4 separate regions of the Homo sapiens genome follow, and all the other regions are linked to region 1. The links come from fine-mapping of genetic effects on gene expression. A gene starts in region 1. Each other region holds a variant in brackets. All regions are shown on one strand. Distances are from middle to middle.

Region 1 (8,100 bases):
GACGCACCCCAGGTACAAACGAAGAGGAAACAGTTGGGGGAGGTGAAGGGCCTCGGCTCAGTTACCCAAGATCGGCTCCCCTAGAGGCCTTTGCTTGCTGCCTCAGCTCCCACACAACTTACAGCTGCAGGAGAGAGTATTCACCCAGTAGCACCATCTTTATGACTTAGATTACTACCTTGTCTTCCTTTTTTTTTTTTTTTTTTTTTTGAGATGGAGTCTTGCCCTTGTCCCCCAGGCTGGAGTGCAATGGCACGATCTCAACTCACTGCAACCTCCGCCTCCTGGGTTCAAGCAATTCTCCTGCCTCAGCCTCCCAAGTAGCTGGGATTACAGACGCATGCCACCACTCTGGGCCAATTTTTGTATTTTTAGTAGAGACAGGCTTTCACCATGTTGGCCAGGCTGGTCTTGAATTCCTGACCTTGTGATCCGCCCACCTCAGCCTCCCAAAGTGCTAGGATTGCAGGCATGAGCCAATGCGCCTGGCCCCTTGTCTTCCTTTAAGAGACAATTATAATACAAAAAATTAGCCGGGCATAGTGGCGGGCACCTGTAGTCCCAGCTACTCAGGAGGCTGAGGCAGGAGAATCGCTTGAGCCTGGGAGGTGGAGGTTGCAGTGACCTGAGATCACACCACTGCACTCCAGCCTGGGCGAGAGAGTGAGACTCCGTCTCAAAAAACACAATTACAGATAATTCTTTTTTTAAAAAAACAACTAGTCATTGATTCTGGAAAATTACAGATAATTCTATCATGTTTCCCATTCCCAGAAGTCCAAGTCCTGGCCTTTCAATATTATCTAGATCTGCATCCCTCTACTACCATGTACATTCTTTAATCACACCGCTGGCCCCATTTCCCACCCCACATGCCTTCCTAGAATTTACCCTCAGAGTCATGCCTTTCCTTTTTTCTTTTTTTTGAGGGGTGGAGAGACAGAGTCTTGCTGTGTTGCCCAGACTGGTTGGTCTCGAACTCTTGAGCTCAAGTGATCCATCCGCCTCGGTTCTCAAAGTGCTGAGATTACAGGCATGAGTCACTGCACCCAGCCTAGAGCCATTCTTGATTTCTCTCTCTTTTACCTGAACATTCACACCAGCAGCAAGTCTTGGTAGCTATAAGATGTACATTTCCAAGTACCTCTGCTAGTCTCCACTTTCAATACCACATCCCCATCCAAGCCACTGTCTTTCTTGCCTGGATAGTTGTAGTAGCTCCTAACTGGGCTCTCTGCTTCCAGCTTCTGCAATTCAGATGAACCTTTTAAAACATAAATCATATCACTTTTTTTTTCTTTGAGACGAAGTCTTTCTCTTGCTCAGGCTGGAGTGCAGTGGCATGATCTTGGCTCACTGCAATCTCCACCTCCTGGGTTGAAGCGATTCTCCTACCTCAGTCTCCTGAGTAGCTGGGATTACAAGGACACGTCACCACGCCTAGCTAATTTTTGTATTTTCTAGTAGAGAGGGGGTTTCGCCATGTTGGCGAGGCTGGTCTTGAACTCCTGACCTAAAGCTTCCCAAAGTGCCTGCCTCAGCTTCCCAAAGTGCTGGAATTACAGGCGTGAGCTGCTGCACTCAGCCATAAATCGTGTCACTTTTCCACTTAAAATTTTCCAAGGGATTCCATCTTGCCAGGGAAGAGCATGTCAAAGGAGAATCCAAGCGCTTTTCCCGCCACCTCCAGTTCTCTGCACTCTTTTTTTTGTTTTTGTTTTTGGCGAGTAGGGGAGACGGAGTGTAGCTGTGTCACCGAGGCTGGAGTGCAGTAGTGCGATCTTGGCTCATTGCAACCTCCACCTCCCGGGTTCAAGCGATTCTTCTGCCTCAGCCTCCCAAGTAGCTGGGATTACAGGCGCCCACCACCACGCCCAGCTAATTTTTTGTGTTGGCCAGGCTGGTCTCAAACTCCTGACCTCGTGAGTTGCCCACCTCAGCCTCCCAAAGTGCTGGCATTACAAGCGTGAACCACCATGCCCGGCCTGCACTCTTCTTTGAACAGAACTCTGTTCTTGTCCTGGGGCCTCTACCCTTGCCATTCCCCTGCCCAGTATGTTCCTCCCTGTTCTTCACATTACCTGTGCCTTCCTGTCAATCAAGATCTTTGCTTCTCACCCTCTCTGAGGTCCAACCCTGAACCTCAGGTCCTCCAAGACAGAGGCCTGGGGACCTGCATGTTTAACCAGCTCCCCAAGTGATGAGTGAGGTCCAGGCAGGTATGGTGTACACCACCTCCATCCCTTCCATGTATCTTACCTTCCTCTTCTCCAGGAAGCTCAGCCCGGAGCCAGAAACGGGAGGCCCGCCTGGACAAGGTGCTGTCGGACATGAAGAGACACAAGAAGCTGGAGGAGCAGATCCTTCGTACCGGGAGGGACCTCTTCAGCCTGGACTCGGAGGACCCCAGCCCCGCCAGCCCCCCACTCCGATCCTCCGGGAGTAGTCTCTTCCCTCGGCAGCGGAAATACTGATTCCCACTGCTCCTGCCTCTAGGGTGCAGTGTCCGTACCTGCTGGAGCCTGGGCCCTCCTTCCCCAGCCCAGACATTGAGAAACTTGGGAAGAAGAGAGAAACCTCAAGCTCCCAAACAGCACGTTGCGGGAAAGAGGAAGAGAGAGTGTGAGTGTGTGTGTGTGTTTTTTCTATTGAACACCTGTAGAGTGTGTGTGTGTGTTTTCTATTGAACACCTATAGAGAGAGTGTGTGTGTTTTCTATTGAACATCTATATAGAGAGAGTGTGTGAGTGTGTGTTTTCTATTGAACACCTATTCAGAGACCTGGACTGAATTTTCTGAGTCTGAAATAAAAGATGCAGAGCTATCATCTCTTAAAAGGAGGGGCTGTAGCTGTAGCTCAACAGTTAGGCCCCACTTGAAGGGAGAGGCAGAATTGTACTCACCCAGATTGGAAAATGAAAGCCAGATGGGTAGAGGTGCCCTCAGTTAGCACCTGTCCCATCTCGGGCCCTCCAACTCCTCCCAGTCCCACTCCAGTGCAGCCAGCTGGCTCCAAGGTAGAAACCCATGAGCACTCAGGGAGCAGTGTGCCTTCAGCTGCAGCAGAAGCAGCCCGGAGGATAAAATGAGAACCAGCTGCACACGGGCCCTTTAACTCCCAAGCCCCACCCCTGGGCTTGGCCTGCCTTGCCCTGCCGGGAAGTGATCCCCAAGGCAGGGTGAGAGTTCCCCATCTGAGGCGTTTGTTGCAGCTACCTGCACTTCTAGATGTGAGTACATTGTACTAGCCCCCCAAACCCCAAATCAGGGGCAGATCTTTGTATCCCTTGAGGCTCTCTTTAGTCCTGTCTTGCTTTGAAGGGCCTTGCTTCTGCTGGGGCAGGGAAAACATGTCTGAATCAGAGTGGGGAAGGAGGATGGGTGGTGGCTTTGCTTTTGGAGGTTTCACTTTCCAATAGTTGGGAGTCTTCTGGGTTTTGAAGTAAAGGCAGATTAACACCAACACCGGTCCCCCACCCCCCTGCAACTCTCAGGCCTCTCTCTGACTTCAGGGTCCCACCTGGGAAATCAGGTGGGGAACCTTACAGGGTCATTCAGACCCCATCTTAGCCCTAGATCGGTGCTTGCTCTACTCACCTGCACTGTCCTGGGGACCTGGGCTCTGGCCTGTCACCTTGAGCTCCAAGAATGTGACCTGTACCCATTCAGGCCCCTTAACTCTGACAGATGAGGGTTTCTTACTCCTCCATGCAGGGCTGGGCCAGCTGTTGGTCTCAGTCGATCATTCAGGAAGTCATTAGCAGAGTGATTTCCAGAAGGCGTAGAATTTAGTGACCAAGGTTCTTTCCTTTTTGGGAGGAGAAAGTGAAAACTAGGATGCTCAGCTGGACCCACCAGCCTGAGATTCTGGGGATTTTAGAGCTGTCCCTTGGGGAGCCAAGCACTTGGGGGTGGAGGTGATAGCGAGGCTGATGGCCCCTGTGTTCTCAGCTCTCTGCCTGGGTAGCCCCTGGGTGATGGGGGAGAGGCCAGCTGTCACGTGGGGTATCAGGTGGCTCTGCCAGAAACTCCCTTGGCACACAGAGCACTGGGTCGGCCCTCGGGTGTGGCTGTTTGGGCAGGACAGCCCTCTGTATGTAGCCTTGAGCAGGTAGGGGGGCCACCTTGAGTGGGTGGCCCAGAGACAGCCTCAGGGCTCCAAGGTAACGGGGTGCTCAGGTTATCTTGGGTGCTGCCCTCCCAGGTTCTGGGGGAGCAGAGGCTGGGCGCTGGCCCAACTTACAGGAAACACTCACCTTTGAACTGCCATTAGCACCATCTGGGCAGTACACAGCCCCACCCAGGTCCTCTAGTTCTTGTTCTCGGCTTAGAATCTTTGTGTTTCTGCCTGAGAAGCCACTGCCTCCTAGTTTGTGGTCTCTACAGTTATAGCCAGGTTGGACTTCCGGCTCCGTCCTTTGATAACTGTGTGCTCTTGGGCAAATTTCTTAACTTGCAGGTTCTTGTGAGGATAACATGAGTTAATTGAGGGCACTTAACACTACCTGGCACAGATTAAGCTCATCTGAAGTGGGAGCTGTTACTTAGGGGCGTTTGCCTAGAACACAGGGTCCAGAGGCTCTCTCCCGGAAACTTAGACCCAGTGAGTCAGAAGTGAGGCCTGCAAAAAGCAGCAGGAGTGGGGTTAAGAATTCCAGCCTAGGGCTGGATGCGGTGGCTCAGGCCTGTAATCCCAGTACTTTGGGAGGCCCGAATGGGAGGATGGCTTGAGGCCAGGAGTTCCAGACCAGCCTGAGCAACATAGCGAGACCCTGTCTCTGTTTGTGTGTGTGTGGTTGGGGTTTTGTTTTTTTTTTTTTTTTAAAGAATTATAGCTCAGTCCTATGATTAGGCAAGTTGAGAAAATATTGATGAAGATCAGGGGTGCTGAAGCCTGGTTCCTGGGGTCGCTTCTGATCTAGGCGGTTCTTGCCTCTGGTGACTGGTGTTAATTGGCAGGAGTGGGAGGAGGGAGGACAAGTGGAAGTCTAGGCTGGCTGAGCTGTTCTGTCTCGAAAAGTTCCTAAAACTGTGCTGCTTTAAAAAAAAAAAAAGTAATTTATGAGACACATTCTCAATTTCCATTAATCATCTCCTAAAGGGGGTAAACCAGGAAGCCGCTGGGTGAAAACAGGCTGTTGGCAATTCCTGAGTCATGTGACCCATTCTCTAAAGACTAGAATATTTAACTTAAATCAGTGAGAAACTCTGTGAAGTTGTGTCCTTGTTTATACCAAACTTCATGTGCCTTTTCCTGAACCTGAAGCTGTGGGAAGGTCTGGGGGCAGGGCCGCATCACCGACCTTACGTCCAACCTCAGGACTGCCTGGAGCAAGAGCCCTGGGGTTGGGGACAAAGGAGGCTGCCTGGACCTGGGTAAGGGAAGGGGCTGGAGGAGAATGAGTGCAATTCCCTGCCCTTCACAGCCTGCAATCGGAGCTGTGTTTTTGTTTTTGAGACAGAGTCTCGCTCTGTCCCCCAGGCCAGAGTACAATGGCGCAATCTCGACTCACTGCAACCTCTGCATCCCTGGTTCAAGCAATTCTCCTGCCTCAGCCTCCCGAGTAGCTGAGACTACAGTTGCCTGCCACCATGTACGGCTAATTTTTGTATTTTTAGTAGAGACGAAGTTTCACCATGTTGGCCAGGCTGGTCTCGAACTCCTGAGCTCAGGCAATCCGCCTGCCTTGGCCTCCCAAAGTGCTGGGATTACAGCCACTGCGCCCGGCCTGAAACTGATCTTTATCCTCCTCCCAGTTCCTACTGTGCACCAGAGACCCTCCAGTCTCTAATACCTTTGACTTGAAGAGCAGTCATTTTTTTTTCCTTTTCTTTTCTTTTCTTTTTTTTTTTTTTTTTTTTGAGATGGCCTCACTCTTGCCCAGGCTAGAGCGCACTCGTGTGCTCCATTTACGGCTCACTGCAGCCTTGACCTCCCAGGCACAGGCGATCCTCCCACCTCAGCCTCCAAAGTAGCAGGGACCACAGGTGTGCACCACCACACCTAGCTAATATTTTTTATGGTTTTTATAGAGACAGGGTCTCCCTATGTTGCCCAGGCTGGTCTTGAACTCCTGGCCTCAAGTGATCCTCCCATCTTGGTCTCCCAAAGTGCTGGGATTACAGGTGGGAGCCACCAAGCCTAGTCAACAGTCACTTTTATTCTCACTTCACTGGAGAGGAAGGCTCAGAGGCTAGTAAGTGGCCCAGGAGCATGCTGGCAGTGATAAAACCTGCTGGAGTGACATTTTCCCACTGGCTCTCAATCCTGGATATATATTAAGAGTCAGAGGCCAGGCGCGGTGGCTCACGCCTGTAATCCCAGCACTTTGGGAGGCCAAGGCAGGCGGATCACGAGGTTAGGAGATCAAGACCATCCTGGCTAACACAGTGAAACCCCATCTCTACTAAAAATACAAAAAAAATTAGCTAGGCGTGGTGGTGGGTGCCTGTAATCCCAGCTGAGGCAGGAGAATGGCATGAACCCGGGAGGCGGAGCTGCAGTGATCCGAGATCGTGCCACTGCACTCCAGCCTGGGTGACAGAGCGAGACTCGTCTCAGAAAAAAAAAAAAAAAATGAGGGAGAACTTTTTACAATAGCAACGGGTGAACCTCACCCAGACCAATTAAATAGAATCACCGGAGATGGGTGGCTTTAAAAAAAGGTCTCCAGAAGGCCTGGCGCGGCAGATCACACCTGTTATCCTAGCCCTTTGGGAGGCCGAGGTGGGTGGATCACTTCCAGCCTGACCAACATGGCGAAACCCTGTCCACTAAAAACAAAATTATCTGGGTGTGGTGGCGGACATCTGTAATCCCAGCTACTTGGGAGGCTGAAGCAGGAGAATTGCTTGAACTCGGGAGGCAGAGGTTGCAGTGAGCCGAGATGGCTACACTCCAGTCTGGGCAACAAGCACGAAACTCCATCTCAAAAAAAAAAAAAAAAAAAAAAAAAAAAAACAGATTTCCAGATGACCAGTGTGCAGCCCGAGCCGAGAGTCTGCTTTAGACCAGAGCTGCTCAGACTGTAATGTGCATGCAAGTCATTGAGGGTCGAGTTAAAATGCCAGTAGATTCAGTGGCTCTGGGGTGGGGCCCCAGGCTGTGTTGCTATCAAGCCTCCAGGTGGTACCACTCTACTCACTGCAGACCCCGTAGGCAGTGTGGTCACTTGGTCAATTGCCATTTAAGACTCACTAGGGGCCAGGTGTGGTGGTTCACGCCTGTAATCCTAGCACTTTGGGAGGCTGAGGCAGGCAGATTGCCTGAGCTCAGGAGTTTGAGACCACCCTGGGGTGAAACCCCATCTCTACTAAAATACAAAAAATTAGCCAGGCTTGGTGGCATGTGCCTGTAATTCCAGCTACTCGGGAGGCTGAGGCACGAGAATTGCTTGAACCTGGGAGGTAGGTGGACGTTGCAGTGAGCCGAGATTGTGCCACTTCACTCCAGCCTGGGCTACAGTCTCCAAAAAAAACAAAAAAGAGATTCAGTATATCAGCTACTCACAGTTGACCCTGAAGATCTCTGGGAAGTAGTGACTCATGACTCGTTTATTTATTAAGTTTTGCTGTAGCAGAAGTTTACTTTTGAGCCAAGAGTCTGATCCGGTCTCCCTCTTTTTTTTTTTTTTCTTTCTTTAAAGAGATGGGGCCTTGCTATGTTGCCCAAGCTGGTCTTGAACTCCTGGCCTCAATCCATCCTCCCACCTTCGGCCTCCCAAAGTGTTGGGATTACAGGTGTGAGCCACCTCTCTCAGGCAAGAGCCCCTCTTTTAACTAGACAATGAACCTGGTTTCTGCTTTGGACAGGCTATTTAGTTCCTGCTTATTTACCCTCATGGTGGGAGAGACCCTGGTGGGATTTGGGGTGAAAGCTGGCTGTGGTTCTTGCAGGAGCCTCATGACACCTGAGGGAGGTGTGATCAGGCAAGACTGGGCCTCTACACTGAGAGCCGACTAGGGCAGGTCTCAGAAGCAGAGACTGAAGGAAGTTGGGTGGATGAGTGGATCTGGGGAGCAGGGGCCAAGCCTGAGGGCTGGGCAGAGCCTTCCAAAGGTCAACACAATCCTTGCTATTGTCTTTTGAGGGCCCTGATC
Region 2 (8,100 bases), 580 kb before region 1:
TCAGCATCTGTGGTGTGAGGCATGGACACAGCACCTGCGAATCCGTGTTGGCTGTCATTCCTATTAACCAGTTATAACAAGGATCACACACCTTGTTCCCCACACCAGTCATGTGGTGGCTGCACTGTGAGGCAGACACCAACCTTGCATTTTCCACGTACAGAAGTGGCTGAACACAGCCCAGGAGCTTGCCCAAAGCTGCAGGAGGCTGCTCTGGCTCGGGCTCAGGACCGGGGGTGCTTAGAGTGAGGCTCTGGCTGTCCTGCCCGCCTGTGGGTCCTAAAGTCCTCTCATTGCCATTCCAGGTGCCCCCGTGGATAAGCTGCACCCACCTATCCCCAGGAGCACAGCCAGCACCTCTCAGGTGCGCCCCTGAGGTGTCTGTGGCACCTGTCTCTTATCCATCATCATTCTCCCAGGCAGACCCAGGGCGGGGCAGATGCTGGCTCTGGCACCGCAGGAAGCACATCTGGTCCAAGGCATCTCAGAACCTGAGGCTCCGGGGTGTAGAATGGACTTTGAGTTTCTGGAAGAGACCTTAGGAAACGTTGTGTCTGCATTTCCAGGTGGCCGGTTGGTGGTGGGGGCGCCTCACTCCTCACCCTGTGCAGCATCCTCAGCCTCTGCCTGCATCTCTTGAGTCTGCTCTGGGTCAGCACTGGGGGTGAGGAGGTGATGAGGGGCAGCGGCAGGGGCCGGGGGTCAAGAGCCCCAGAGGGGAGGCCAGGCCAGGTCCCGGCAGCCCAGGTGAGATGAGGGCCTCGTGGTGGCCTTGAGGGCTGGAGGTGAGGGAAGGGCCCTGAGCCGGGTGCCACGGCCGACGCCCTGTCCTTTGCCGTGACAGTCTCTGTGCAGTGCAGGCAGCCCCCACCGAATCCAGGTACAGTGCTCAGTGACAAGCGTAGGGAGAGTGGTCAAATCGGAGCAGGGGCAGGGGACGTGAGTCAGGCTGAAAAGAAGAAGCTCAGAGCAGGAAGGGCAGAGGGGCCGGGAAGGGCAGGTCTGAAGCTCGGAGTGGGAAGGGCAGACGGGCTGGGAAGAGCAGGTCTGAAGCTCGGAGTGGGAGGGGCAGAGGCGGTGAAGGGTGAGTCCGGAGCAGCCTCTAGTTGCCCAGGTGCTCGGAGAGTGAGGAACCCCCCAGGGAGGGAGGAGCCCCCAACCCACAGGGCTGCAGCCTTGGACACGGCCAAGACCCGGGCCTAGGAAGAATGGGGTCCTCAGGGCTCAGGTGGGTTACTCATCCGCCCGCTCTGTGCCCAGGGCCCTCCCCCACCACCGTCAGCGAGTCCGCACACAGGTGCCTGGGGTTGTCACCTGAGGGCCGCGCCTGCCTCCTCTCCTGATCCCACAGCAGCCCAGGAAGCAGGGCCCCGTGTGAGCTCCCGGAGCTGCGGCATCAAAACACTACAAATGACGGTGGGGGCGGGGACGGGGCGGGGGTGGAGGCAGGAGCTGGGGGCCAAAGCCGTGGAACTCACTCCCTCTCAGCCTGGAGACCAAAATCCAGGTGTCTCAGGGCCATGCTGCCTCGGGGGTCTCCCGGGGATCCTTCCTGCCTCTTCCAGCTCCTGGTGGCTCCAGGTGTCCTTGGCTTGTGGCCATGCCACTCCAGTCCCACCTCATCCTCACATGGCCTCTGCTCTGTGTCTCTCCCTGTGTGTGTGTGTATCTCTGTGTCTCTCGCTTTATAAAGACAATGGTCATTGGATTTAGGGCCCACCCTACTCCAGCACGACCTCATCTTGACTAATTACATCTGCAAAGAGCCCATTTCCAACCAAGCGACACTCACACAGGTCGGGGGTAGGACTCGGACACAACTCAATCCATAGCAAGTGTGGGTTTTGAAATAGAATCTTAAAGAAGTCCCTCATAAGCCCCAGAGAGCAGCTGGAGGTGCCCCATGAACCCCACAGAGTGGCCAGAGGTGTCTCATAACCCCATAGAGCAGCCGGAGCTGCCCCATAACCCCATAGAGCAGCAGGAGGTGCCCCGTAACCCCATAGAGCAGCGGGAGGCGCCCCGTAACCCCATAGAGCAGCCGTAGGTGCCCCGTAACCTCATAGAGCAGCTGGAGATGCCCCATAAGCCACATAGAGCTGCTAGGGTGCCCCAGGCCTTGTCTCTGTTTTTCTGGGCATCCTGGGAACTGGGCAGAGTGGGATCGTGACACCCGTGGACCAGGAGAGATTCTGGGAAGCCCCTGCCGTTCTGTTTCCCACTTCTTTCAGGCCACTTGGCCAGCACCGCTAGGCCCTCCTCGTCCCTCTTCGTGGAAAACCATGCAGAGGGAGGCAGGTAGAGAAGAGAAAAGATGTCTGACTTCAAGCTTCTAAAGGATTTTCTCCGACAGGAGGAAGAGATACTTTTCAAAATGGTTGTGAGCCGCCTTGGCCAGAACGCAGGAGGACCCTGTTAAGAGGAAATCAGGCACAAGGCGCCCACACAGCCAGGGTGGGAGGGCATTCCAGGATGGTCACAGCTGTCTCCGCTGTGGTCTCAAATGACTTTGCTTGGCCTTCTGGAATCTAAAGGGTCCTGGAGTGGGGTGTTCACTGGATTTGCTGCCGAGAAGTCTGCAGCTTTTCACTGTCACTCTTGAGACCTGGATCCTTCAGACGTGGAAAAGGGAGTGATTGCTCTGAAAGTTCCAGTTTGGGTGCTGGCGACCGGCCTCCAGGCATCTAGGAAGTCGGAGAGCACAGTGCTGGGGACCTTCCATAGAAACCCAAGTGTGCGCCAGCTGCAGGATTTATAATGTAAAAATCAGTGCTCGCGTTAAGGGGCAGCGCCGAGGGAGCAGAGCCTGCGTCCATCGCCATTGTGTTCCAGGCCTCCTTCTGTGAGGTGCCCCTACCAGCAGCTTGCATTCCCTGTACCCCGATATTTCACTGCAGATGTTACTGGAAGCCCTCTGCCACAGGAATCCTCAGGAGCTGATTATTTTAGGAAAGTAAATGGAGAATGAGGAAAATAATATCCGAACACATGACCTCAATTCGCAACGGAGATGTTTCCCGGCAGAACATCGGCTTCGTAGAACCACCTGATTATGTCCCGGCTTCCTCGAAGGGTTTTTTAGGAGCCTCCTGAGGCA[C/T]AGCAGGGCTTCGAGGAGGCTCCTAAAGGGTACAGGAGCACTTTGCAGGGCCGTACCCAGAAACCCCGTTCTAGGCAGAGTTCCCCATTTGGGCTGTGTTTTGAGAAGGCATTTTTAAGGATTCTAATCCTGTATTCAAACATCATTAAGAGCCTAACATCAACCTCATAGTTTTTTCCTGAACATTCAGCTTAAGGGGCTGAGCTCCAGCGTGGCAATCCTGAAAGTGGAATGAACAGTCTTGGGGTGATGCTAGAATTCTCTATAAAAACGCACACAAGCAAAGAGAGGGCCTGGGGCTCGTCCGGCAGTAACAGCAGCACAGTACAAGGCACGGATGCGGAACCGGCTCCCAAACCCCGTGCCTCACTGTCCCTGGTGTAGTGACAAGGTGTCAGAGATGCGCGATCATTTCAGACGTTTTCTATGGGGAGGAAGCTGGGTTTTCTGAGCAGTCATGGGGGGTGAGTGATGTGTGTGAGGACTCGCACAGGCCAGAAAAAATGATGGCTTTAACACAGATCTGGAAAGAAATTCTGAAAACCAAAGAAAGTCGGCAATGAGGCCAGCCTGGGAAATGTTCCGAGAGGGTGTGGAGAACTGGGGAGCAGTGGAGGGTTTCGGGGCGGGGGGGGGGCCCAGCCCATGACAGGCCTGAAGAAGGACCCTGAGCCCCCACCCCGGGTGGCACAGGGGTGCCCAGGCCTGCAGCCCCCAGGGAGAGACGCCGTTCCTGGTGAGGGAGGGGGGAGCTGTGCTGACCCCCCGTGTTTTCCATGATCTCTCACTCCATGCTGGGCAGAGGCTTTAGGAAAAGCTGAGCTGTGCCCGGAGACGGCACCCAGGAGTCCAGCCGGGATAGGACTTGTTTTTCTTCAACAGCAGCGCCAGAGGCAGAAGGGCCAGGAATTCACTTGCGTGGTCCCGGCCCCTCTCCTGGGGCCCATCCTGGGTCTTGGCCTGGGCTCAGGGCCCACTGGCTGGACAGACTGGAGACCCGAACTGAGTGCAGGAGGCTGTGGGTCTGGGCGCCTCCCTTGGGACTTCCATTCGTTGCATGGATTTATTTTCACCGCAGATACCTCAGGTGTACTTCCTAAGAGCAAGCAGAGGCCCTTTCATAACCGCAGCTCAATTTCGGAAATGGGAAAACCTCCATGATCGCAATCCTGTTACCAGATCCACGGACCTTGTTCAAAGGCTGCCGATTACCACAATCGTGTTCTTTATGACAAAAAACAAACAAACAAACAAAACCCTACACTTGTTTCTGGTCCAGCCCAGCAGCCAGAGTGGTGCTGGTTTGTCACGACTCGACTCTGGTTCCCTGGAACCCTGCGTCTTTCTTTCTTTTTAAACCTCGATGGCTTTGGAGGGAACAGACCAGTTTGTATGTTGCCCCTCTGCCTGGGTCTGGCGGGCGCTTCCTGGTGAGAGATCCCACTTGGTATCTCTGTGGGAACGGAAGGGAGGTGAGGCCGCGGGAACGGAAGGGAGGAGAGGCCGCGGGAACGGCGGGGAGGCGAGGCCGCGGGAACGGCGGGGAGGCGAGGCCGCGGGAACGGCGGGGAGGTGAGGCCGCGGGAACGGCGGGGAGGTGAGGCTGCGCCTCCTCGTTCCCTGGCTGAGAGGGTAACTCTGACCACCTGGGTGCAGTGGAGCCGCCAGCTGTCCCCCCTGTAAAGGGACTGGCGGCTCTGGGTGCCTGTGGCTGCTCCAACAACGAACCACAAACCGGGAGCTTAAAACTTATTCTCTCCATTCTGAGGCCAGAAATTCAAAATCAGCCTCCCCTAGACATAACCAAGGTGTCGACGGGGCCGCCCTGCACCTGGGAGAGTCTCCCCGGCCCTTCCAGCTTCTGGGGCTGCTGGCTTCCTCGGCTTGTGGCCGCATCGCTCCCGTCTCCACCTTAATGGTTACAGTACCTCCTCTCCTGTCTGAAATCTCCCTCTGGCCCTCTTATAAGGATGCACCTGATAGCAGCTGGGGCGCCCTGGATAAGCCACATCACCTCCACATCTCGATCCCATCTGCAAAGTCCCCTTTCCATATGAAGACGCGGTGACAGGCTCGAGGGTGTCGGGGGTGGATGTGTCTTTGGCGGCCATGATTTAGCCTGCCAGACTTAATAAGTATTTTGTGAGCTGCCTTGGGAATATATAAATGTCCTGTACTTTGTTAAATTTCATGATGACTGAAGAGATTTCCTTTCTCCCCATTTATCTGTGTATTCATTTATATTAGTGTGGACTCGTGGCTTTTTAAAGATTTAATGGGTTATAATCCATTGCCATCATTATGTGTTTGATGCCCACATTGTCCCGGGTTTGGTCAGTGGGAGCCCCTTCAAGCCAATTCCTGTGTCCCCATCATCCTTTAAGTACCTATTTCCTTTGCAGCAGGAAGAGATATCCCAAGCTCATCTGCGCTTTCCCTGTCACGTGCTGCAATTTGGCGCTTTCCCTGTCACGTGCCACAATCTGGAACTTTTCCCATGAAGCCTTCTGTTCATGGCAAAAGGTATCCAGAAACCAAGACGTGGGTGCTAGTGTGCTCATTACTACTGGAGTGCCTCGGTGTCCAGGGTGTTTCAGTGGCTTCAGTGAGGGAGTGTAAGGGGAGGAAAGGAGGGAGGGAGGGAGAGAAAGGGAGGGAGGAGAGGTGGGAGGGAGGGAGAGAGAGAGAGGGAAGAAGGAAGGAGGGAAGGAAGGAGGGAAGGAGAGAGGGAGGGAGAGAAAGGGAGGCAGGGAGGGAGGGAGGAGAAGTGGGAGGGAGAGAGAAGAAGGAAGAAGAGATGGAGGGAGGGAGGGAAGAAGGGAGGAGGGAAGGAAGCACGTACAGATAAGACAAGACAGGACAAGAAAAGACACACACATATATCTGCATCTATAATCTCTCCATAGTAAATGCACACACACACACACACACACACACACACACACACACACTCTCTAACATACATGAGCCACGAGCTCCCACGATGCCTCCAGTTCCAACCTGGAATACCTGCGACTCCTTCCCCAGCAGGGCCAGGTCTGCCCTCTACCATTCTCAGGGTATTTGCTTATTTGCTCAGTCCTAGAATAAACAGAAAATAGTTTCAGCATTGCTAACCCACCCCACTGTGGAAAACACATCTGTTCACCCCACATATTCTTTGCCTGAAATACAGCGAGCTTCTTTTGTTTCTATCTGCAATCCATTTAGAGTCACCTGCCCCCTCTTTTTTTCCTTTCAAGTATGTAAACTTAACCTGGTTCCACAAAACAAAACCCTACACACACACATCTATTCGGAGAAATGTCGCTTCCTAGTCCATCTCCCCAACACTGTCCCTCACCTCCTGTGACATACACCGTCTCATCAGTCTCTGGGTTGTTCTTCCGGTGTTTCTTTTCTTTTCTTTTTTTTTTTTGAGATGGAGTCTTGCTCTGTTGCCCAGGCTGGAGTGCAGTGGCGCGACCTTGACTCACTGCAAGCTCAGCCTCCCGGGTTCATGCCATTCTCCTGTCTCAGCCTCCCGAGTAGCTGGGACTACAGGTACCCGCCACCACACCCAGCTAATTTTTGTGTATTTTTAGTAGAGACGGGGTTTCACTGTGTTAGCCAGGATGGTCTCCATCTCCTGACCTCGTGATCCTCCCACCTCGGCCTCCCAAAGTGCTGGGATTACAGGTGTGAGCCACCGCACCAGGCCCCTGTCTTTCTTTTTACAAAAAATAAGCATTGTTTTATTTCCCCTTTCTTTTACCCAGAAGATGGCATGTTAGAGATAGTCTTTTACGTTTTTTTTCACTTAATAACATATCGTGGAAATGACTCCATATGAGTTCATAGAGGACTTCCTTATTCTTTTTTACAGCTGCATAGTACTCCACTGTTTGGGCGTACCACAGTTCATTCAACCTCTCTCCTGTCTGTGGGCATTCCAATTGTTTCTAATATTTTGCAATTACATGCAATGTTGCAATGAATAAACCTGTGCATCTGTTTTTTTTAATGCATCTTCATACTATTGTAAGAGTATCTTCAGAGTAAATTCTAGTCATGAGATTACTGATGCAAAAGTAAACTCTTCCTCCAAGATGGTTTTACCAATTTGTATTCCCACCAGCAAAGTAAGGAAAGGCCCACTTCTCCAGAGCCTTCTCATGGGAACATGTTCTCAGTGACGCTGCTACATTGTTGCAATCTGAGAGGTGAAAAATGAGACTGCAATGTAGCTCTGATTGACATTTCTGTTTTGAGTGATATTGAGCCATTTGTTCATGTGTTTAAGGCCCATTTATAAACATTTTTGGTAAATTATCTCTTCATGTCTTTTGTTCATTTTCCTATTGGGTCTTTGGTCATTTCTTCCCTCAGTTTTTAATAATGCTTTCTGTATTAGAACTATTTCCCCTATATTTGATGTATGTTATAAATATTTCTCCTAATTTGTCATTTGTCCTTTGGATTTCTTTGCGGTGTTTTTTAACCATGGAAAAGTTGTTCTGTTTTTATATCGTCAAATGCATCCATCTTCTCTAGTGTTGCATTTGGATGTTGAAAAGTGGTTCTGTTTTTATACCATCAAATGTACCCATCTTCTCTTGTGTTGCATTTGGATGCTGAAGTTTAAAAAGCTTTTCTGACATTTCCTTCTAGTATTTGTATGGTTTAATTTTTTACATATAGATCTCTAATCCATTTGGAGTTTATTTTTTATGTATAGTATGAGATATGAATCTAATTCCATCTTTTACTAAACGGCTAACCAGTTGTCCCAGCACCGTTTGTTAAAAAGATCATCTTTGTCCTAGAGACGTGAACGTCACTTTGACCATCTACAAATTATTCAGAGGTCCTCAGGTCTATTTCTGGGTGTTCTTTTCCACCGTTCTGTTTTGTTGTGTGTCGGTCCCACACTTTTTTCTCTCAAGAAGCTTTTTAGTGTGTTTTAATGCCTGGTAAAGCTGGACCTCCTCCTCCACCCCCCCACCAGCCCCCACTGTGCTAAC
Region 3 (8,100 bases), 25 kb before region 1:
CTGAGGGTGTGGAATCTGAAGTAAGCCCTTGAGTATTCTGGGAGGACTTCATTAAGGGAGTGAATGATACTTGAGATGGGTTTCAAAGGTTGGATAGGAGTTTGCCAGGCCTTGACTAAGAAGACAAGAACAGCAAGTGTTTTCTTATTTATGATGTAAGATGCTCTCTTAGCTCAATTTCCTCATCAATAAAAGGGAGAAGAGTGAATGAAATTTAGGAATTGTGAAAGAAGGGAAAATTAATAATTGCTAGCCTGGTCCAAGCTCAAGGTTGCTTTTATCATGAAAGGGCTAGACTCTTGTGCAGTAAATAATTGTTTACATGTGGCCCTCCCCTCTTCCCTCCTACCCTGGACTGTGAGCCCTGGGGCAGGAATGGCCGTGAGCCATTTTCATGATGGAAATGAACAAGCCAGTGATTAGTAGTTTATTCACTAAATCTTAATTTTTTTCAGCAAATACTTCTTGAGGGCCTACTCTGCGCCAGGTGTTGGGGTTAGAAAGGTGAGCAGGATAAAACTTGTTCTCACAGTTGGCAGTCAGGTGGAGAAAGTGACAAACACGCAATAGTGGGGTGTGACAAATGCTTATGGAGGGGCTAACATGAGCTGTGGTTGCACCTGATAAAGCCTTAGTGTCTACCAGGAAAGGGTTTTTGGTTTTGTTTTTTAAGAGGAGTTAAAATGTGTTTACCTTAGTCACTCCAGGGTGGGGTGGGGAGCAATGCAGATATTCTAGGGAGAGAGATTAACGTGGACAAAAATCCAAAGGTGCAAGAGAACTTGGAGTTTTGTAGGAAGTGAAGGAAATTCATCATGACTGGTAACTTACACTGCAAGGAAGGAAACAGAGGGAATGACTAGAGGGCAGGGAGACACCTTGCTACCACCAGCAAGGAAGGCTGTAAAGACCATGACCTTGGGCAGAGGTAGTGCAGTGGGAGTGGAGAGAAGTGGACTTGTTCAAGAGAGATTTAAAGAGATAGACTTGACAGATGTTAATGATGAACTGATGTGGGAGGTAAGAGACGTTGGAGTTAAAGACTCCCACTTTTGGGGTTGGTGCCATTCATTTACATCAGAGATCAAAGGAGGAGGCTGCAGAGAGATGGGGAAGGAGGGTTCAGTTTAGGACAGGTGGAGTTTAAGAGGAGCCGTCGGCTGGGCTCACGCCTGTAATCCCAGCATTTTGGGAGACCAAGGTGGGTGGATCACGAGGTCAAGAGATCGAGACCATCTTGGCCAACATGGTGAAACCCTGTCTCTAAAATTAATCAAAAATTAGCTGGGCGTGGTGGCGTGCACCTGTAGTCCCAGCTATTCGGGAGGCTGAGGCAGGAGAATCGCTTGAACCGGGAGGCGGAGATTGCAGTGAGCCAAGAGCGCCACTGCACTCCAGCCTGGCGACAGTGAGATTCTGTCTCAAAAAAAAGGAGCCGTCAGGGCAGCCGTTCAGAACGTGGGCTGCAGTTGAGAGCTCTTGTGCAGAACGTGCAATAGGACTTATCAGCTGTAAGATGTTACTGAAGCCAAGAGGGCGGGTGACCTGCCTATGAAATGAATCTGAGTGGTCTCAGCTCGGGGCAACTTTGTCCCTCACAGGACATTTGGAGATGTCTGGAGAGATTTTTAGTTGTTACAACTTGAGGGTGAGGGTGGAGAATGCTACTGGCATCTAGTAAGCATATGCTAACAGTCTAAATGCACAGGACAGCCCCACAACGGAATTAGCCAGCCCGAAATGTCAGTAGTGCTGAAGTTGAGAAATGCTGGTCTAGAGAAAGGATAGACGGATCCTAGGATGAGGAGTGAACAGAAAACTAGGTAAGACAACCAGGAAGGTGGGGGGCATGGAAATGAAGGGAAAAGTGTGTTTCCCAAGAGTGTCGCATACTTCTGGGAGGTCCAACAGGATTGAGGCTGAGTATGCCTACTGGATCTAGCACTAGGGAAGTCATGGGTGACCCTGCTGAATAGTGAGGGCAGAAGCAAGTTGCAGGGATGGAGGAGTGGGTAGCAAGAGAAAGGGTGTAATAATAACAGCTAAGGACTGAGCAGTTGCTGCCAGGCACTGTGCTAAACATTGTATGTACATTATTACTTTGAATCCTCACATTCTTATGAGATGCAAAGATGAAGGGGCTAAGGAGGCTGAGGAGGGTTCATATAAAGCACTTTGGAGTTAGATCTTCATTTGAAGCTGTCAGTCACTAGCTGTTGACCCTGGGTCAGTCAGCTAACCCCTCTATACTGAGGTTTCCTCATCTGGAAAATGGGAGACGGACATTAAAAAGCACTTACTGGCCTTTCACCAAATACCAGATAATGTTCTAAGCACTTTTACATGAATCACCTTAATTACTCTCCTAACAACCTAACAAAGAGGTATTTTTATTCCCATTTTGCAGGTAAGGAAATTGAGGCACTGGGATGGAAAATAATTTCCCTAGGTTACTTAGCTAGCTGTAAATGGCAGAGCTGGGATTTCAACCCAGGCCATTTTACCTTGAATGATGAACCTACCTACTATGTGCTAGTCACTGTGCTGCCACTTTATCTGGCACTTATTTCAATTATCTTTTTTTTTTCTGAGACACAGTCTTGCTCTGTCACCCAGGCTGGAGTGCAGTGGCGCAATCTCTGCTCACTGCAACCTCCACTTCCCGCATTCAAGCAATTCTTGTGCCTCAGCCTCCCAAGTAGCTGGGATTACAGGCGTCCACCACCATACCTGACTAATTTTTGTATTTTTAGTAGAGGCAGGGTTTCACCACCACGCTGGTCTCGAACTCCTGACCTCAGGTGATCTGCCCACCTTGGCCTCCCAAAGCGCTGGGATTACAGGCATGAACCACTGCGCCCGGCCAAATTCTCAAAAAGCCCAAGGCCCACCCCCAACCTTATTTTACAGACAAGGAAACCAAGGTCCAAGGTCACAAGCTAATAAATGTCAGAGCTGGAATTGAAGTCCACTTCTGTCTGACCAGAGTCTACACTCTACCTCATTACTGACTTCCCCTTCCCCTTAGATTGATCACTGCGCTTCCTTAAGTGCTTCTACATCTGCCATCTTTCTGTTCTCCCAAAACATCCTGTGAAAGCAGGCAGAGGAAGGTCCTGCACATATTTTTGACAAGTCAGTGCACCTCAGTTTTCTATCTGCACACATGCATCTGCAGGTTTTTACCTGCTTGCTCCTGACTTTCAGGATTGCCATGAGGAACAAATGAGAACTAGATGTCCAAGCGCTTTGCTACCATAACGTGAGAAATGGTATTAGTAGCCCCATTTATCAGATGATGGAATGGAGGTTCAGTTTTTGAAACAGCCCGTCTGCTTATGGGCATGCCTTACTTAGGTGTAAGATTCTTTGTAGGGGTCATCTGTCTGCCTTTTCGTCTTGCTGTTTCTGTGTTGGCTACGTATACCAGCCAGCCTTTTGCCTTCTGCGAGGCCTATGGCTCCTAGCAACCAGCTGCTACCACCAGCAAGGAAGGGAAAGAGCTGCCAGGAGCTTTCCCAGTTGGTACATAATAAGGAAGCAATACAGCATCCTATTAAAAGCAGATTTTTAGAGGGGAAGAGATCTAGGTTTGAATTCCACTATGAGCTACAGTATGTTATCCTCCAACGTAAAATAGAGTAATACTCTCCTTAGATATTTTCAGCTCATTTAACCCCCACAAAAATAGAGGGCTTTTCTTTTTTTAAGTTTTAT[CTTCA/C]TTGTGTTTTCTGATGATAAAAATAATTCAGTTGCCAATTCTAAAACAAAACAAAACAAAAAAAACTTAATCATCTGAAGCAAATTCAGGGTTAAGTTTACATGAGAGAAGAATTGCATGTCGGTGGTTTTTGCAGAACCCACATAATTCCCCATCAAGAGAAGATCATCATTAACAGTTTGCAGGGGTGGGTGGGTCTGTGAGTATACATACGTCTCAATACATATTAGAAACCCCAGTTAAGAAATGGAGGTACAGGCTGGGCAGGGTGGCTCACACCTATAATCCTAGCACTTTGGGAGGCCAAGGCAGGCAGATCACTTGAGGTCAGGAATTTGAGACCAGCCTGGCCAACATGGTGAAACCCTGTTTCTACTGAAGATACAAAAACTAGCCAGGAGTGGTGTTGGGGACCTGTAATCCCAGCTACTCGAGAGGCTGAGGTGGGAGGATCGCTTGAACCTGGGAGGTGGAGGTTGCAGTGAGCTGAGATCATGCCACTGCACTCCAGCCTGGGTGACAGAGCAAGACTGTCTCAAAAAAAAAAAAAAAAACACACACACACACACACACAGAAAATTCTGGCAGTTCGCTCTCTGGTTTAGGTTTCGGTCAGATGTCAACCCTTTTAATCCTTAGAACAACCCTGTGAGGTGCTGGTCTACTTCACCCTTGGCAATTCAAAACATGTCCTGGGCCAGGCATGGTGGCTCCTGCCTATAATTCCAGCACTTTGGGAGGCTGAGGTAGGAGGATCGCTGGAGCCCAGGAGTTGAAGACAAGCCTGGGTAACCTAGTGAGACTCCATCCCTCTCTCTCTCTTTTTTTTTTTTAAGTGCCCAGCATCACCTGGGAGCTTGTTAGAAATGCAAAATCTCGGGCATCACCCCAGGGAGACGGAGACCAAATCCACATTTTCACAAGATCCTCCAGGTTATTTGTGTATACATTACAGTCTGAGAAGCCTGCTATACACCTGCTGCACTTGCTTGTAGAGCAGGGAAGGCACTGAGGCCAAGCTTAGGGGTGTCCACAACATGACCAGGGCAGAATGAGCTTCTCCAACATGAGCTGTGGCCCCCAGCCCGCCCAGCAAAGTTGGTCCCTGCTTCTTCTGCTACCACCATACTTCATGTCTAAAAGTGATCTTCTCTCCTCCAGGAGCTGGTCGCTGTCGGCTAAGCAAGATTGGAGCTACTCGTCGTCCACCTCCAGCTCGCGTAAGGGTGGCTGTGCGACTGCGGCCATTTGTGGATGGAACAGCGGGAGCAAGTGATCCCCCCTGTGTGCGGGGCATGGACAGCTGCTCTCTAGAGATTGCTAACTGGAGGAACCACCAGGAGACTCTCAAATACCAGTAAGGTTCAGGCCACTCCTCTTCCCTCATGCCATCACCTCCCTCTCCTAGGCCTGCCCACGTTCCCCTGCCTCCCCAGGATCCTTGCTCCCTCCTTAGCACCGCTTTGTTCCCTGAGCCTTCACTGTTCACTTAGGAAATGTTGACAGGTGCCCCCATGATGGGCCCTCTCTGGGATACTGTAGGGAGAGATGAGAGGTTGAATCAAACATACATTACTGTGCACAGAGAGGGAGGAGCAATGAGGGTGAGCAGGTGAGCCCCAAGTAGAGGCTGGGGGACATATCAGGAGGGTTGGCGGAACACAGACCTGCCAGCCAGCCTACCCAAGCTGCAGCTGGGTAGTGTCAGAGAAGACCACCCAGATTTGGGGACAGAACTCAGAAGGGCAGCTACTTTATAATCCTACTGGGGATTTAAAGTTCAAACTCCTTGGCCTGTTTTTCTAGGCGGGGGCTGGCAAACCATGGCCTGCAGGTCAAATCTGATCAGGAGTAAGATTTTCAGTAAATAAAATTTTATCGTTTATTTACATATTGTCTATAGCTGCTTTCTGACTACAGTGGCAGAGTTGAGTAGTTGTAAAAGGAACACATGGCCCACAAAGCCTAAAATATGTACAATCTGCCTTTTTACAGAAGTTTGCTAGCTCCCATACTAGGCCGTTAACAATTTGGGCTTCAGTTTCTTTCCAGCCTCATTCCCTCAATATATATTAAACTCCCTGCTGTGGCCTAAGCTGCACTTCTCCACCAGAACGCAGTGGATAGGTGATTGGTATGTAGAGTCTAGTTCAGTCATAAGCAGCATCCTCTATTTTCCCCATTATGGTGTAAAATACAATGTTCTACACATGTAGCCATTTGAAAAAGACTGGGAAGCCTTGCTTTTTTGCTATTCTTGATTCTCAGAATTTCTTTCTTTGGTCAAAATCTTCCTTCCTTGAGCAGAATCAGTTACTCCTTTGAGAGTGTGTTCTTATCTTCGTTTCCTAAATCACAGCAAAGTGTGGATATCTATCCTACCAGACTGAAAAACTCCAAGAGCAGGGATATCAGATCTATCTCTGTATTCCTAACACCAATAGAGAGATGAGGATGGAGTAGGTGTTAGGTGGATGCTTTTTAAGGTCTTTGTACAAGAAAGGGGATAGAGACGTTCTCTTAAATCCAAGGTCCAGATGAGAGTAGAATCCCTTACCCACCCCCACCCCACTCCACCCCTTACACACACACACACACACACACACACACACACACGCTAATTTCTTTCTTTCTTCCTGCAGGTTTGATGCCTTCTATGGGGAGAGGAGTACTCAGCAGGACATCTATGCAGGTTCAGTGCAGCCCATCCTAAGGCACTTGCTGGAAGGGCAGAATGCCAGTGTGCTTGCCTATGGACCCACAGGAGCTGGTGAGGGAGCCAGAAAAGAAACAGCTATGGGTCAGAAAGGGCTGGGGAAACGGAGAGGAAAACCTCACAGTTTTCTCCACTCTCTTCCCAGGGAAGACGCACACAATGCTGGGCAGCCCAGAGCAACCTGGGGTGATCCCGCGGGCTCTCATGGACCTCCTGCAGCTCACAAGGGAGGAGGGTGCCGAGGGCCGGCCATGGGCCCTTTCTGTCACCATGTCTTACCTAGAGATCTACCAGGAGAAGGTGAGGCCCCGTGCTGGTTGGGAGAGGAGCAACAAAGGGTCAAAGTAAGACCTGGTTCTAGAACATGAAGCTCTGCTGTAGCAGGGAGGTAAGGTGAGACCTAGAAAGACAGAGACTGGGGTAGCAGATGGTACAACTCCGAGAATAGAACAGAGAAAGGAAACTGATCCCCAGGAAGAAACAGCCTCTCTATGGAGAATTGCCCTTCCCCTTCACTGCTTACACAGGTATTAGACCTCCTGGACCCTGCTTCGGGAGACCTGGTAATCCGAGAAGACTGCCGGGGGAATATCCTGATTCCGGGTCTCTCCCAGAAGCCCATCAGTAGCTTTGCTGATTTTGAGCGGCACTTCCTGCCAGCCAGTCGAAATCGGACTGTAGGAGCCACCCGGCTCAACCAGCGCTCCTCCCGCAGTCATGCTGTGCTCCTGGTCAAGGTGAGGCCGCAGACAGGGGCGAGGACCTGGGAAGCCCAGGAGCCTGAGCTAAGCACGAGACCTTTGTTCTTACCCCCAGGTGGACCAGCGGGAACGTTTGGCCCCATTTCGCCAGCGAGAGGGAAAACTCTACCTGATTGACTTGGCTGGGTCAGAGGACAACCGGCGCACAGGCAACAAGGGCCTTCGGCTAAAAGAGAGTGGAGCCATCAACACCTCCCTGTTTGTCCTGGGCAAAGTGGTAGATGCGCTGAATCAGGGCCTCCCTCGTGTACCTTATCGGGACAGCAAGCTCACTCGCCTATTGCAGGTCAGGCCCACCTGTCTCAGGGAAGAAGGGGCTGCAGAAGGAGGTTCTCAGGCCTGCTGTGGGGTGGGGAATAGCAGTTGAGGCATAGGAAGGCTGGGCTTCTGACCCACCCACTGCCTGGTCTCACCCTCAGGACTCTCTGGGTGGCTCAGCCCACAGTATCCTTATTGCCAACATTGCCCCTGAGAGACGCTTCTACCTAGACACAGTCTCCGCACTCAACTTTGCTGCCAGGTCCAAGGAGGTGATCAATCGGCCTTTTACCAATGAGAGCCTGCAGCCTCATGGTGAGAACTGGGGGAGGCAGGAGTGGAAACGCTGGGTCTGGAAATTAGGGAGTTTGTTGAAACCACCAAGCATCAGCACAGAGGCTGACCACCCCCAATCCCTCTCTCCACCCCATCCTCCAATCATCTAGCCTTGGGACCTGTTAAGCTGTCTCAGAAAGAATTGCTTGGTCCACCAGAGGCAAAGAGAGCCCGAGGCCCTGAGGAAGAGGAGATCGGGAGCCCTGAGCCCATGGCAGCTCCAGCCTCTGCCTCCCAGAAACTCAGGTGAGCAGTGGGGCCTTGGGTGTATCCCCTTCCTGATGTATGGCTTAGCAGCAGAGCTGCAA
Region 4 (8,100 bases), 47 kb after region 1:
GCAGGGAACCCTAGAGGTGGGAATGTAATGAAGTGAAAGCCTCCCAGGCAGAGGCACCCCGTGCCAGGTCTGAGCCACGGGCCCTGAGACTCTAGCCTCAACCCTGAGTCCTGAAGCCCCGACTCATAGCTCTCAGCACTAGGCCCTGACTCTAAACCCCCACCAAACCCCCCTCCCCCAGGTCCAGAGCTTTCTAGCTAAATCTCAAGGCCCAGTCCTTCAGGAGCAAGCTCCTTGGACCCACAGGCCCCAGCCTGGGAACTCCCACAGCCAGCACTCCCATGTGGGAGCTCCCAGGCTGAACCCCTCCGGCTTTTCCTTTCCCAGGCTTCGTTATCTCGTTCTGAGGAATACCTGTCCCAGATCAGTGCAGAACTCATGGAGGAGGCTTTGTGCACTGCTTGCTGCCACTTGAACCCTGTGCCCATCAAAAAAAAGCAGTCACAAGACCAAGCGACTCAGATATCCAAACGCGGTAACCCCCTGCCTCAGGACCACCGTGTCTAGAGAACCGCTGCCCCCACTATGCCTGGTTACAGTCCCTGACCCCTCCCACCCCTAGCTGAACTCTCCAGGAGTCTGTGCCCATCTCATCCATCTCACAGCCAGCCCTAGGACCTGTGAAATGCCCCTCTCACCCGCTAACCCAGTACCCACTCCTCACTGCTGGCCGAGAATCCCCTTAGCCCCGTCTGCCCTGGCCGCATCTCTTCTGGCCACGGGGATAGTCCTTTCTCTGACTAGGTCCTCTACTTCCAGCATTCTTCACCAAGACCTGAGGCACAGACACCTGGTGAGTGAGGCTTCAAGGGAGATGCTCTTTGTCCTGGGAGAGAGGTGAGGAACCTGGAGGGGAGAGAGTGAGGGTTTCACAATATCCCAGCAGGGTGGGGGAATTTTTGAACCGTGCACTTCCATTCTATTCTGCCCTGATCCTCAAATTCTGAATTCTCAGCCCTCTCCCCTCTCTTCCACCATCTCCTGCTCGGACAGAAACCGTACCTGCAGCAAGGCATACCTCCTGCCAACTCCTGGTGAAAAGGTACATGCAGGGTCCATGGCTGCCAAGGCTATTCGATATTAACCAAACCTTTTGAGTTTGCACTATATGTTGGTCCCTGTCTTAGGAGCTTGGGACACTGAAATGAATGGTACAGTCTCAGCCCTTGAAGAGTTCACAGTTCAGTGTGGGGACAGACAAGGAAATGGCCAATTATAATACAGTCTGGATAAGTTTCCATAATAGAAATGGACACAGTGGGATAGTACTCTTATCCCAGCTTCAATTGGACAGGAAGGACAGGAGCCATGGAGCTTCTTCTTTTTTTTTTTGAGACGGAGTCTTGCTCTGTTGCCCAGGCTGGAGTGCAGTGGTGTGATCTCAGCTCACTGCAAGCTCCACCTCCTGGGTTCACGCCATTCTCCTGCCTCAGCCTCCCAAGTAGCTGGGACTACAGGCACCCGCCACCACACCCGACTAATTTTTTTGTATTTTTAGTAGAGACGGGGTTTCACCGTGTTAGCCAGGATGGTCTTGATCTCCTGACCTCATGATCCGCCCTCCTTGGCCTCCCATAGTGTTGGGATTACAGGCTTTGGAGCTTCTTGAAGGAGGTAGCACCTAAAGAAATAATTTTCCACCAGGTGCAGTGGCTCACACCTGTAATCCCAGCATTTTTGGGAGGCTGAGGTGGGCTGATCACTTCAGGGCAGGAGTTTGAGACCAGCCTGGTCAACATGGTGACAGAGGTTGCAGTGAGCTGAGATCATACCACTGCACTCCAGCCTGGGCGACAGTGAGACCATCTCAAAAAAAAAAAGAAATAATTTTCCAGGTTAAAAAAAAAAGAGGTTAGTAGGAGTCTTTCAAGCAGTTGGGGTTGCATGAACAAAGGCAAAGAGCAGTCTTCGCAGAGCCAGTGTGAGCATCTGTGTGTATTTAGGGCAGGGAGAAGCAGTTTAGCAGCTGGAGTCTACAGGCAAGGTAAGAGGGGACTCAAGAGACTTTATGTGCCTTGTTTAGAGCCTTACACACTTTCCTGGCTGGGTGTGGTCGCTTATGCCTGTAATCCCAGCACTTTGGGAAGCTGAAGCAGGAGGATCGCTTGCGTCCAGGAGTTTGAGACCAGCCTGGGCAACATGGTGATACCCCAGGCATGATGGCATGTGCCTGTGATCCCAGTTACTTGGGAGGTGGGAGGATCGCTTGAGCCCAGGAGTTCAAGAATAGCCTGGGCAACATAGAGAGACCCCATCTCTATAAAAAGTTAAAAAAATTAGCCAGGTGTGGTGGCACGAACCTGTGGTCTCAGCTACTTGAGAGGCGGAGGCCAGAGGATCACTTGAGCCTAGGAGGTTGAGGCTGCAGTGAACCATGTTCATGCCACCGCATTCCAGCCTGAGTGACAGTGCAAGACCCTGTCTCAAAAAGAAAAATTTAAAAAAAAGAAAAGAAAGAAAGAAATAGTAGGAGGAGCTGGGTGCGGTGGCTCATACCTGTAATCCCAGCACTTTGGGAGGCCAAGGCGGGTGGATCATGAGGTCAGGAGTTCAAGATCAGCCTGGCCAACATAGTGAAACCTTGTCTTAACTAAAAATACAAACGTTAGGTCAGGCGCGGTGGCTCACACCTGTAATCTCAGCACTTTGGGAGGCCCAGGCGGGCAGATCACCTGAGGTCAGGAGTTTGAGACCAGCCTGGCCAACATGGGGAAACCCTGTCTCTACTAAAAATACAAAAATTAGCTGGGTTGGTGGTATGCACCTCTAATCCCAGCTACTCAGGAGGCTGAGGCAGGAGAATCGCTTGAACCCAGGAGTTGGAGGTTGCAGTGAGCCGAGATCACACCACTGCACTCCAGCCTGGGCTGCAGAGCAAGACTCTTTCTCAAAAAAAAAAAAAAAAAAAAAAGCCAGGCATTGTGTCACGCACCTGTAATCCCAGCTACTTGAGAAGCTGAGGCAGAGACTTGATTGAACCCGGGAGGTGGAGGTTGCAGTGAGCTGAGATTGCACCACTGCACTCCAGCCTGGGCCACAGATCGAGACTCTGTCTCCAAAAAATTAAATAAATAAAAATTAAGCACTTACTATGTGCCAGCACTGCTCGAGGGGCTGGGGTGTTGCAGTGAACGAAACAGAGTTCCTGCTATCAAGAGGTTTAAAAAATTAGCCGGGTATGGTGGTGCACAGCTGTGGTCCCAGCTACTCGGGAGGCTGAGGTGGGAGGATCATTGGAGCCCAGGTTGAGGCTGCAGGAAGATATGATTACACCACTGCACTCTAGCCTGGCTGACAGAGGGAGACCTGTCTCGAGAAAAATAAAAAAGACATGAGCCTTGGGTCTAAAGAGTGAAAAGGCTCTGTCTCTTTTATGGAGCTCTTCCTAACAGTCAGTTTGGAAGATGAGCCCACCCCTCTTTGATGCTCTTGGCTTCTCATGCCTCCCCCTTTTTGTCCCTAGAACATGCCTCAAAACTACTCTTTTGCCACT[C/T]GTTAACCACTTCCGTTTGTGGGGACCTCCTGGTCATGAGCAGCATCATCCCGAAGCCTTCAAAGTGTTCTGGATTCATCACAGGACCCTCCAGCCTCAGCCAGCAAGGATACCACCAGGAATGAAAGTGCTTTAATAAAGAGACAGGGTGTGCATTGCTCATGTGTGGTTTCTCTGGGGTAGAGAAGCAGGACGGGGGGGCTTTTATTTTTTTTTCTAGATGTGGGTGCTGGATGTGGGCATACGATTGGAGTGTTTAGTCTTTAAAAAAATTTTTTTGTGGCCAGGCACGGTGGCTTACGCCTGTAATCCCAGCACAGATCATGAGCTGAGGATATCAAGACCATCCTGGCCAACACGGTGAAACCCTGTCTGTACTAAAAATACAAAAAATTAGCCGGGCATGGTGGCACGTGCCTGTAGTCCGAGCTACTCGGGAGGGAGGCTGTGGCAGGAGAATCACTTGAACCTGGGAGGCGGAGGTTGCAGTGAGCTGAGATCGCACCACTGCACTCCAGCCTGGGCGACAGAACGAGACTCCGTCTCAAAATTTTTTTGTGTGTGTGGAGACGGTGTCTCACTGTGTTGCCCAGACTAGTCTTGAACTCCTGGCCTCAAATGATCCTCCTGCCTCGGCTTCCCAAAGTGCTGGGATTACTGGTGTGAACCACCACACCCGGCCTGTTGACACAGATGAGCTCATGGGTCCAAATCCAGCCTCCTGGCCACACGCCAGCACCTTAAGGTCTAGGTCTGTGGCATCTGGCAGGACTCCTCTTGCTTCTGAGGAGCCACCTCTGCCACCACCATTGGGGATGGGGACACTGAGCTATGGCCTTGCCCCTCTGAGCTTTGGGCTTCATGCCTGTGAGAACATATCACACTCATTACTAGCCAGAAAGCAGTGCAGTAGGCTTTGCAGTAGGCTAAATTCATTTTAGCATTTAGCATTTGCATTGCTAAATGCAAACTGCACAAAGTTTGGCCATTTATTGGAGCCTCCTGTGGAAGTCAATTCTCATCTCTGAGCCTTAGTTTCCTTATCTGAAAAAATGGATTAATAAATGATCCCTGTCCCGTAGGGTCCTTTAGAGAGTTAAAAGACATAATTGAGTCAGGCATGGTGGCTCATGCCTGTAATCCCAGAGACACACCGGACAGTATGGCGGGAGGATCGCTTGAGGACAGGAGTTCAAGACCAGTTTGGGTAACAGAGTGAACCCCCACCCCTAAAAAGGTAAACAAGTTAGCCAGGTGTGGTGGAGCACATCTGTAGTCCCAGCTGCTCAGGAGGCTAAGGCTGGAGGATCACTTGAGCCCAGGAGGTTGAGGCTGCAGTGAACTATGATGGTGCCACTGTACTCCAGCCTACACTACAGAGACACCGTCTCTAAAGAAAAAAACATAGGCCGGGCGTGGTGACTCATGCCTGTAATCCCAGCACTTGGGAGGCTGAGGCGGGTGGATCACTTGAGGTCAGGAGTTCGAGACCAGCCTAGCCAACATAGTGAAACCCCGTCTCTAATAAAATAAAAAAATTAACCGGGTGTGGTGGCAGGCTCCTGTAATCCCAGTTACTGGGGAGGCTGAGGCAGGAGAATCACTTGAACCCAGTAGGCAGAGGTTGCAATGAGCTGAGATTGCACCACTACACTCCAGCCTGGGTGACAGAGTAAGACTCAGTCGCAAAAAAAAAAAAAAAAAAAAAAGACAAAAAAACAACATAATGCATACAAAGTGCTTGCTATTATTGAGATCAGTTTGCCTCACATTCTCCTAAAAGTCCACCCCTTTCTGAATATTTCAGCATCCTTTCAAGTATCCTAAAAATGTTTAATTGCATTTAAATATAAAATTTTATTTTATTTGGGACGGAGTCTGGCTCTGTCGCCCAGGCTGGAGTGCAGTGGCGCAATCTCGGCTCACTGCCAGCTCCGCCTCCTGGGTTCACGCCATTCTCCTGCCTCAGCCTCCCAAGTAGCTGGGATTACAGGCGCCCGCCACTACGCCCAGCTAATTTTTTGTATTTTTAGTAGAGAAGGGATTTCACCATGTTAGCCAGGATGGTCTCGATCTCCTGACCTCGTAATCCGCCCGCCTCGGCCTCCCAAAGTGCTGGGATTACAGGCGTGAGCCACCATGCCCGGCTTAAATATAAAATTTTAATTAGGCCAGGCAAGGTGGCTCACACCTGTAATCCCAGCACTTTGGGAGGCCCAGGCAGGCAGATCACCTGAGGTCAGGAGTTCGAGACCAGCCTGGCCAACATGGCAAAACCCGGTCTCTACTAAAAATACAAAAATTAACCAGGCATGGGTGCCTGTAATCCTAGCTACTCGAAAGGCTGAGGCAGGAGAATGGCTTGAACCCAGGAGGTGGAGGTTGCAGTGAGCCAAGATCACGCCATTGTACTGCAGCCTGAGTGACAAGAGTGAAAAAAAAAAAAAAAAAAGATAAAGTGGAAAAGGACACCCCCAAGGATATAAAACAAGTTCAAATTGGTAGATGGGTCACAGCAGATACGCCTAAAATACTAAAAAGATTGGGGGGGGGGGAAGAAATGGTGTACTTGAATGGATACAAAAATTCTCCAAAGGGGGTGAATTTTAGGCAAACTGGTCATAAGACAAATTGAAAAGCCAGGCTTGGTGGCTCACGCCTGTAATCCCAGAACTTTGGGAAGTTGAGGAAGGAGGATTGCTTGAGGCCAGGTGTTCGAGACCAGCCCGGGCAGCGTAACAAGATCTCATTTCTACAAAAAATTTAAAAATTAGGCAGGCACCATGGCTTGCACCTGTAGTCCCAGCTACTCAGGATGCTGAGGCGGGAGGATCCCTTGAACCTAGGAGTTTGAGGTTGCAGTGAGCTGTGATGGCACCACTGCATTCCAGCCTGGCCGGCAGAGCCAGGCCCTGTCTCTAAAAAGAAAGAAATTGAAAGCTGTTTGCCTCCTGCCCAGCAGCGAGAGAAGACGGGTGGCTCCTGTCAGTTCTCTCCCATCTGGAAGAGGCCCACAATGTCAAGGAAGGCCTGGTGGAGAGGTCACTGCGTCCTGGAGTGAGGCTGGTCGCAGGGAGGCCTTCACAGAGGCTGAGCCTAAAGCCAGGCTTTTTTACCTCAGGCCAGGCCCCCGGACACTGCCCTCTGCCCACTTTCGCATTTCCTTTTTTTTTTTTTTTTTCAAATTGTTCCCCTTTCCCCAGCCCTCTCTCCAGAGAAGTGGTCCAGTGCTCGGTGACCACCTCCCCACACTCCACCGGCCCAATTACAAGTGGCGATTTTCTGTTTATTGCTCAAAAACAAGAATTCAGAAGCAAAGGTGGAGAGACTGTGGGTTGGGGAGATGGCAGGAAGGGGGCAAGGCCTTGTCCCAGCTCTCCCCTTTGTCCTTCTTCTGACCCTCCTGGCCGGAGTCAGGCCTAGGGCCAGGGCATCTGGGAGGGGGGCACCTTCGTGGCCAAGGGAACAGTAGAGCTATCGGGGGCAGTCCTTGAGGGGTGCCCTGGGCAGGAGGGGCTGCAAGATTTGCAGGGAGGCAGAGTTCCCCTCCCAGAATCCAAAAGCCGGTAGGGCGGGGGGCAGGCCCCTCGTTTGGCAACTGAGAAGAGGCGGCTTTGGGCGGCAGGATGCTGGTTTATTTACTGTAGGATCTCCAGGGCCATCAAAGCCCCCTCGTGGGATAGGGAGACTATTTACACAGCCAGGGAGGAGGGCAGCCAGGAGGCAGAGACCGGGTCCCGTATTTCCCTCTGCCCGAATGAGGAGGGGAGGGGCGTCCTGGGTCCTGCAGCTGTAGTCTTGGGGTTCAGATGGAAACTTCATACTCCCGCGTATCCTGAAGACAGAGAGATCAGGTCAGTTGTTGGAGTCTGATAGGGGTGGAAGAGGCAGCCGAATGGGAGGAGGGGCAACGATCCTGGGTTTTAAAGTAACATTGACCTCTAGGGGCTGGGGGGCCAGTGAATGTGTTTGGTTCATCCTACGGTGTCGTAAAATGACACAAAAATCTGAATTTCTGGCTTGTCTTGAATAATTGGAAGATCTGCCAATTGTGCCTCAGTTTCGACTATGGGGTAGAGCCGTATTCTTGAGATGGGGCACAAGTCCTCCACTTAGCCACAGTCCTCACCACTCCCTATTGTATACACATGGCTTGCTATGCTCATTGACATGGCCTCTGGGGGCAGCTGAGTTTGAAATTCCCAAGACAGAGATTCCAGAGACCTTGCGAGAAGGTTATGGAGTCCTGGGAGAGCCAAGTGGTGGCTCTTCAGGGGCAGGCAAGGTGCTTACCCCAGCTTCATACAGCGGGTTGCTGAAGTCCGACTCCACGGTGATGGGGCTGTAGGAGTGGGAGCCCGAGAAGCCGAAAAGGGACTTTCCCTGAAGCCTGGGAAAGGGAGAGGACAGAGGAGCTTATCAACAGGTAAGCCCCTGAGCTCCCCTGACCCAGGCTCCAGTGCCAGGCTCGCAAGACGTCTGCCCTGGCCGGCAGTCCCCAAGCAGGCTACTTACTTGGTGTAGTAGATGTAAACGCCACTGCCGAGGACAATGACCAAGCCTAGAGGCAGCAGGATGGCCAGGGCCAGGTTCCCCCCTTCCAGCTG

The links. PIP is the estimated chance that this variant, and not a neighbour inherited with it, causes the effect.
Region 2: its variant is fine-mapped to the expression of MVP in whole blood (TOPMed, PIP above 0.99).
Region 3: its variant is fine-mapped to the expression of MVP in whole blood (TOPMed, PIP above 0.99). The same link has a PIP of 0.9 or more in lung.
Region 4: its variant is fine-mapped to the expression of MVP in whole blood (INTERVAL, PIP above 0.99).

What each region holds. Positions count from the first base shown.
Region 1 is chr16:29,817,281-29,825,380 of GRCh38, forward strand. It overlaps MVP (major vault protein), which reads left to right and starts at 3,182. Exons shown (of 15, transcript NM_005115.5): 1 at 3,182-3,230. PAGR1 (PAXIP1 associated glutamate rich protein 1) reads left to right here. Exons shown (of 3, transcript NM_024516.4): 2 at 1-12; 3 at 2,275-5,209. The coding sequence ends at 2,474. MVP-DT (MVP divergent transcript) reads right to left here and starts at 3,087. Exons shown (of 4, transcript NR_186424.1): 1 at 2,904-3,087; 2 at 2,260-2,321. RefSeq lists enhancers at 2,826-2,895, 3,587-4,153, 3,616-3,905, 7,848-7,927, 7,988-8,100.
Region 2 is chr16:29,232,607-29,240,706 of GRCh38, forward strand. No RefSeq gene overlaps it. Among named protein-coding and RNA genes, the nearest start is that of NPIPB11, 170 kb to the right of the region's middle. The variant C/T (reference allele first, on the strand shown) is at 3,098.
Region 3 is chr16:29,792,011-29,800,110 of GRCh38, forward strand. It overlaps KIF22 (kinesin family member 22), which reads left to right. Exons shown (of 14, transcript NM_007317.3): 2 at 4,883-5,078; 3 at 6,364-6,491; 4 at 6,583-6,737; 5 at 6,965-7,174; 6 at 7,254-7,484; 7 at 7,618-7,771; 8 at 7,903-8,038. Among named protein-coding and RNA genes, the nearest start is that of KIF22, 5.3 kb to the left of the region's middle. The variant CTTCA/C (reference allele first, on the strand shown) is at 3,718.
Region 4 is chr16:29,864,401-29,872,500 of GRCh38, forward strand. It overlaps SEZ6L2 (seizure related 6 homolog like 2), which reads right to left. Exons shown (of 18, transcript NM_001243332.2): 16 at 8,009-8,100; 17 at 7,787-7,883; 18 at 6,759-7,328. The coding sequence ends at 7,299. It also overlaps the pseudogene CDIPTOSP. Among named protein-coding and RNA genes, the nearest start is that of CDIPT, 5.2 kb to the left of the region's middle. The variant C/T (reference allele first, on the strand shown) is at 3,494.